Linked DNA regions of Homo sapiens. Changing the gene in region 1 together with any one later gene gives a genetic interaction. Each region holds a gene or a part of one and is shown on either strand. Other genes may lie near its edges.

Evidence for each region. A genetic interaction does not mean that the proteins touch.
Region 2: of MSX1 (region 1) and SP1, changing one suppresses a phenotype caused by changing the other (phenotypic suppression), as found in Homo sapiens cells (one study listed by BioGRID).

What each region holds. Positions count from the first base shown.
Region 1 is NC_000004.12:4,858,501-4,862,464, forward strand, and holds the start of MSX1 (homeobox protein MSX-1), read left to right. Parts: upstream 1-1,164; 5' UTR 1,165-1,399; coding exon 1,400-1,868; intron 1,869-3,964. UniProt on the Homo sapiens protein: Acts as a transcriptional repressor. Capable of transcription autoinactivation.
Region 2 is NC_000012.12:53,407,676-53,411,175, forward strand, and holds part of SP1 (transcription factor Sp1), read left to right. Parts: intron 1-1,686; coding exon 1,687-1,886; intron 1,887-3,251; coding exon 3,252-3,500. UniProt on the Homo sapiens protein: Transcription factor that can activate or repress transcription in response to physiological and pathological stimuli.

The sequences.
Region 1 (3,964 bases):
CATTTTTTCTGTCTTTATTATTATTATTATTATTAACAGCAAACATTAAATCACGTTTTCTCCGAAATTGGCAAAAGAAGAGTTCTCAAGTCCCACACTAGAGTCCACCTCCAGGAACTTTCCTCTTTTCCCAGCCCCCTCCCCCAAATGTGCCTCTCCCCTCCAGGATCAGCGGCCCAGAGATAGGGACATGTCATTGTTTCCGAGGACGCGTTGTTTGAGGTCACCTTAAGGCCAGATCGGTGTTTCATTGACGATTCTGTTGGTTTTATTTCAGTAAGTTCTATATCAAAAGGATCTGGCAGCTCCTTTCCCCGCCCGGGCGCTATAGGTGTTGTGACCCTTGGGACAGAAGTTCAGAGCGAGGGTGGGGGGGGGGGAATACACATCGTGTATGAAAACCGACTGCAGATTCTAGATAATCTTACGTATTCTCACATCCTTGGCACTACAGGAAGCTAGCTTCTTCCCGCAAGGTTTACTCCAGCTCTAAGTTAGAGACAAAGGCCCACTTTTACCTCGAGGTAAAGTTTACAAGATTTCAGAACAGGAAGAAAATGAAGGTTTGGTTTTGTTTCGTTTCTTGAAAAGAAGTTAATAGTATGTCTTTCTCCTAGGATAAATAGCCATGCGTATTTTAAAAACTATATATAAAAGGAATGTGTAAGAAATAACCTCAACTCAAATTATTGTGGTAGAAGAAGAGGGGGGGTCAGACAGTGGAGGGGGGCACAGGGAAACCCAGCCACAGACTAAAGAGAAAGGTAAAAGAAGCAGTAGAGGAGAGAAACAAGGACGGGGAAAAAAAGAGGAGCGGAAAAGAGGGCTGAGGAGGGGAGGGGAGGGGAGGAGAGGAGGGCAGAAGAGAAGGAACGAGAACAAGGGAAAATCCCCCGGGAACACAGAAAGATAGAGACCCAGGGGACTCCCGCAGAGAGGGCCTCTTGGGCTTCAGCGCAGAGGAAAGTTTCCCGGGCACCCCCTCTCCTCCCCTGCCCTCCGCCGCCTGGGCCCTGCCCTGCGTGCCCCCAGGCCCAGCGCGCCTCCGGGCGAGTCCCCAGGAGCGCGGCCCAATGGATCGCTCCGGGCCCGCCCCCTCGCGCGCTGATTGGCCGCCGCCCCGCTGGCCTCGCCTTATTAGCAAGTTCTCTGGGGAGCCGCGGTAGGGCCCGGAGCCGGCGAGTGCTCCCGGGAACTCTGCCTGCGCGGCGGCAGCGACCGGAGGCCAGGCCCAGCACGCCGGAGCTGGCCTGCTGGGGAGGGGCGGGAGGCGCGCGCGGGAGGGTCCGCCCGGCCAGGGCCCCGGGCGCTCGCAGAGGCCGGCCGCGCTCCCAGCCCGCCCGGAGCCCATGCCCGGCGGCTGGCCAGTGCTGCGGCAGAAGGGGGGGCCCGGCTCTGCATGGCCCCGGCTGCTGACATGACTTCTTTGCCACTCGGTGTCAAAGTGGAGGACTCCGCCTTCGGCAAGCCGGCGGGGGGAGGCGCGGGCCAGGCCCCCAGCGCCGCCGCGGCCACGGCAGCCGCCATGGGCGCGGACGAGGAGGGGGCCAAGCCCAAAGTGTCCCCTTCGCTCCTGCCCTTCAGCGTGGAGGCGCTCATGGCCGACCACAGGAAGCCGGGGGCCAAGGAGAGCGCCCTGGCGCCCTCCGAGGGCGTGCAGGCGGCGGGTGGCTCGGCGCAGCCACTGGGCGTCCCGCCGGGGTCGCTGGGAGCCCCGGACGCGCCCTCTTCGCCGCGGCCGCTCGGCCATTTCTCGGTGGGGGGACTCCTCAAGCTGCCAGAAGATGCGCTCGTCAAAGCCGAGAGCCCCGAGAAGCCCGAGAGGACCCCGTGGATGCAGAGCCCCCGCTTCTCCCCGCCGCCGGCCAGTGAGTAGCCAGAACCCAGGCGCAGAGGGAGGGGGCCGGGTGGGGGCCGGGTGGGGTGTGGGACCCGAGGGCTCCTGGTGGCCTCCGGCGCCTGCGTACCTGCAGCCGGTGCTAGGGAGCCGTGGGCTGCAAGGCCGGGTCTTGCGCCTCCCTCCACTCCCACCCAGGAAGAAGGTTCCAGACCTCCTCGCCTTGGCCCAGAGACGCTGCGGGTGGGAGTTAACGGATAGGACACCGATGTCTGGGCACCCTGTCCTCCTGCCCCCACCAAACGACCTCAGGGGTCCATGATCCCTCATCTGATCCCAAACTCTGTTTCATCGGCTTCACCCCAGCGGATGAATGTGTGTGGTGCGGTATCTTCCCTGCACCCGGAGTTTCACTTTCTCGCAGTAGGAGCTGGTGTCCCCCAGCCCCTCTTCCCTTTCAAGTACCTCTTTGCCTAGAGGTTCCGAAGCTCCTACAGAATTCTACCTCCCCATGCCCTTTGAGTTTGAGGCAGATAGTTGGTGCTTTGGGCGGATGGATGATTCAGGGGTGGGGACATTCAGGTTCCAGTGGAGGGGGCGGGGCACCAAGTCAATTAGGGGAAGGCGCCCCCGCTAATCCTATGGGAAGCTCCCAAACGTCTAGGACTGAGCCATTAAAGTGGACTCCAGGTGCCCAAGGCGGTTCGCTCCAAGGCCTCACGGCCCCCTGGCTGCTCTACTCAGAGAACACGCTCGGAGATATTTCAGGAGCACGGGAAATTCCCAAGTTTTCCTCGTTTCCTCCGATTATTTTGCTCGGCATAATAGCAGCCAGATTTCAATGGCGTGATGCTGAGGAATGATTTTTATCTGGGGATTAAACGTCTTTGAAAGGCCAGTCCCTCCCTAAGCCTAATGGCCGGAGAAGGTGGCCCCGCTCTGGGTTGTCGCCGCTGAAGGGAGTGACGTTTCTCTCGGCGCCCGCCCCTCGGGCGGCCCGGCGGAAAGCTAGTTGGGGGCCAAGCGCTTCCCGGACTCCCGGTGGCCTCCAGCAGGGAAGAAGCGGGGTGTTAACACGAGATTTCGTTTGACTCACATCCTGGTGGTCTGAAAGTCCAAAGGATCGTTGTGTTTTCTTTGTTTTGTTTTGTTTTTTCTGTTTGTTTGTGGTTGTTTTTTAGAGAGGTGTGAAAAAATGCATACTTAGGCAAAACCCGCGTGGTGAAACATCTTCGATTTGAATTCACTTTCTGCCGGGAAAGCTGCTGCATAGGCAAAGTGTCCTTTCCAACGCTTAGGGCCTTGGGCCCCAAGACCCCGAAGTCAAAGCGATCCCGGCTGTGTTGGGATAATTTGTTCCACATTTTATCCGGGGGCAGTCCCCAGCAGACCCCATCCCCGACCTGCACTAGTCCTGCGCTCTGATGCTTCTTCACTGTCCACCCTTGAGGTTTATTTTGAAGCCAAAAGAAAAAGACAGCTGGGCATGTTGATGTCTGCTGACTATGCCACAGGTTGAGGGGAGAGGCGATCTCAACACTCCCCCCGCAACAACATCAACACACACACACACACACACACACAAACGTTTGAGTGGGGCCAGAGGGCCCTGGCGCCAGGGGTGAACGCGATCCAACAGAGGACTGAGACAATCTAAAGAAAAAGCCCATTAGAATAAAGCAGCCCCTCGTTCTCCGCTCCAGATGACACTTTCTGTTTCTAAGAGGGCTGGCCACAGTGCACCCTCCATGATGGTCTGCGCTGCTCCATCTCTGGTCTGCGGGAACTACTCCTAGAATCCCGTAGGAGCGAAGTGTTCCGGGGAAAGTGTAGAATTTGATTTGGATTCTATGCCACAAAACTGCCTAGCCCCACACTGAAGCACTCCGTGGGCACTGATAAATGTTTGGCCAACGCGTAAAACTAAATGTGCCCTTGGGCTGGGCGCAGGGCCTCTTTCTGCATGTTCGTCAACTGTATTAACATCCACCTTTCCTCTGGATGGCCCTGGGAGGAGGCCCGCCATGAAGGCCTTCCTAAGCCGCCGGGCAGCACAAAGGTGATTTCACATCTTCCCAGCTGTTTAGGCCTAAGATGTGGACATCGAGCCTTCAACGTGGGTATTTT
Region 2 (3,500 bases), on another chromosome or scaffold:
GCCCAGGCTGGAGTGCAGTGGCACAATCTTGGCTCACTGCAGGCTCCGCCCCCTGGGTTCACGCCATTCTCCTGCCTCAGCCTCCCTAGTAGCTGGGACTACAGGTGCCCGCCACCTCGCCCAGCTAATTTTTTGTATTTTTAGTAGAGACGGGGTTTCACCGTGTTAGCCAGGGTGGTCTCGATCTCCTGACCTTGTGATCCGCCTGCCTTGGCCTCCCAAAGTGCTGGGATTACAGGCATGAGCCATGGGGGCGCCCGGCCTTTTTTTTTTTTTAAGACAGATCTTCATCCGGGTACGGTGGCTCACGCCTGTAATCCCAGCACTTTGGGAGGCCAAGGCGGGCGGATCACCTGAGGTCAGGAGTACAAGACCAGCCTGGCCAACATGGTGAAACCCCATCTCTACTAAAAGTACAAAAATTAACCGGCGTGGTGTCAGGTGCCTGTAATCCCAGCTACTTGGGAGGTTGAGGTAGGAGAATTGCTCGAACTTGGGAGGTGGAGGTTGCAGTGAACCGAGATCGTGCCGTTACACTCTAGCCTGGGCGACAGAGTGAGACTCTGTCTCAAAAAAAAAAAAAAGAGCTTCGCTCTTGTTGCCCAGGCTGGAGTGCAACGGCACGATCTCGGCTCACTGCAACCTCCACCTCCCAGGTTCAAGCAATTCCTCTGCTTCAGCCTCCCAAGTAGCTGGGATTACAGGCATGTGCCACCACGCCTGGCTAATTTTGTATTTTTAGTAGAGATGGGGACCATGTTGATAAGACTGGTCTTGAACAATTTTTGTATTTTTTAGTACAGATGAGGTTTCGCCATGTTGGCCAGGCTGGTCTCGGATCCCTGACCTCAGGTGATCAATCCACCTGCCTCGGCCTCCAAAAGTGTTGGGATTACAGGCGTGAGCCATCACTCCCAGCCCCTAGAAACCTTTTTAAAAAAGAAGGCTTGGCCGGGTGCGGTGGCTCACGCCTGTAATCCCAGCACTTTGGGAGGCCGAGGTGGGTGGATCACAAGGTCAGGAGATCGAGACCATCCTGGCTAACATGGTGAAACCCCGTCTCTACTAAAAATACAAAAAATTAGCCGGGTGTGGTGGCGGGCACCCATAGTCCCAGCTACTCGGGAGGCTGAGGCAGGAGAATGGCGTGAACCCGGGAGGTGGAGGTTGCAGTGAGCCAAGATTGCGCTATTACACTCCAGCCTGGGCGACAGAGCGAGACTCCGTCTCAAAACAAACAAACGAACAAAAAAAAGAAGCCTTGGTCCAGTGCAGTGGCTCACGCCTGTAATCCCAGTACTTTGGGAGGCGGAGGTGGGCAGATCCATCACCTGAGCTCAGGGGTTCGAGACCAGCCTCGCCAACATTGCGAAACCTCATCTGCACTAAAAATATAAAAATTAGCTGGGCATGGTGGTGTGCACCTGTAATCCCAGCTACTCGGGAGGCTGAGGCAGGAGAATCGCTTGAACCTAGGAGGCGGAGGTTGCAGTGAGCCGTGATCATGCTACTGTACTCCAGCCTGGACGACAGAGTGAGACTCTCTCAAAAAAACAAAAAAGAAGACTTTTTCAAAAAATAAAAGTTTGGGTTAGTTTGGTGTCGATTGGGTGATTGCTGTTGATACTTTGTGGTTCTTTAGTTTTCTCTAGAATGAATGATTAACAGTTGTGTCCTCACTTTCAGGGGCTCGGGGGATCCTGGCAAAAAGAAACAGCATATTTGCCACATCCAAGGCTGTGGGAAAGTGTATGGCAAGACCTCTCACCTGCGGGCACACTTGCGCTGGCATACAGGCGAGAGGCCATTTATGTGTACCTGGTCATACTGTGGGAAACGCTTCACACGTTCGGATGAGCTACAGAGGCACAAACGTACACACACAGGTGAGCAAGAGCCTATGGGAGAGAAAAATAGTAATAGACTAGAATGAAAAACACAAAATATACCTACAAAATAACTAAAATTTCTGAGCAACTTAATTTGAAACTGAATATATGGGTCACAAATGGAATTGGAGTTAATCTGGAAAATTTTTAAGAAGGAAGGAGGGGCTGGGTGCAGTGGCTCACGCCTGTAATCCCAGCACTTTTGGAGGCCGAGGCGGGCAGATCACGAGGTCAGGAGATCGAGACCATTCTGGCTAACATGGTGAAACCCCGTCTCTACTAAATATACAAAAAAATTAGCCGGGCATGGTGGCAGGCGCCTGTAGTTGCAGCTACTCAGGAGGTGGAGGCAGGAGAGTGGCATGAACCTGGGAGGCGGAGCTTGCAATGAGCCAAGATCGTGCCACTGCACTCCAGCCTGGGCGACAGAGCGAGACACTGTCTCAAAAAAAAAGGAAGGAGCCAGGTGTCGTGGCTCATGCCTGTAATCCCAGCCCTTTGGGAGGCCGAGGTGGGTGGATTTCTTGAGGTCAGGAGTTCAAGACCAGCCTGGCCAACATGGGGAAACCCTGTCTCTACTAAAATTACAAAATAGTCAAGCGTGCTGGTGCACACCTGTAATCCCAGCTACTCAGGAGGCTGAGGCAGGAGAATTGCTTGAACCTTGGAGGCGGAGGTTACAGTGAGCTGAGATTGTGCCACTGCACTCCAGCCTAGGCGACAGAGCAAGACTCTGTCTCAAAAAAATAAAATAAAATAAAATAAGGAGCTAGATTTTGAGTGGGATTTTTGAAGGTGAAGCATTGAAACCATTACTCTTAGTCTCTGCCCTGCCTTACTTTTAAAACTGCTAAGTTCTACCTTCCTTACCGAGTACTCCCCAACCTTTATCTAGTTTTCTTCCTCACGCCCCCGCCAAAAGGAAAATATACTTGAAGTTTTTTGTTTTTTGTTTTTTTTTTGAGACAGAGTCTCTGTCGCCCAGGCTGGAGTGCAGTGGCGCGATCTCGGCTCACTGCAAGCTCCGCCTCCCGGGTCCACGCCATTCTCCTGCCTCAGCCTCTCCGAGTAGCTGGGACTACAGGCGCCCGCCACCACGCCCGGCTAATTTTTTGTATTTTTAGTAGAGACAGGGTTTCACCGTGGTCTTGATCTCCTGACCTCGTGATCTGCCCGCCTTGGCCTCCCAAAGTGCTGGGATTACAAGCGTGAGCCACCACGCCCAGCCACTTGAAGATTTTTCTTGTTTTTGATCACCTTCTCATACTGGCCTTACTCAGCTTAGTAGAGTAAGCACTGAATTGGGTAAGGTAACCTCACTTCCTAACATGTCAGCTTCTTATCTTTTCTTCCTTTACCTAGGTGAGAAGAAATTTGCCTGCCCTGAGTGTCCTAAGCGCTTCATGAGGAGTGACCACCTGTCAAAACATATCAAGACCCACCAGAATAAGAAGGGAGGCCCAGGTGTAGCTCTGAGTGTGGGCACTTTGCCCCTGGACAGTGGGGCAGGTTCAGAAGGCAGTGGCACTGCCACTCCTTCAGCCCTTATTACCACCAATATGGTAGCCATGGAGGCCATCTGTCCAGAGGGCATTGCCCGTCTTGCCAACA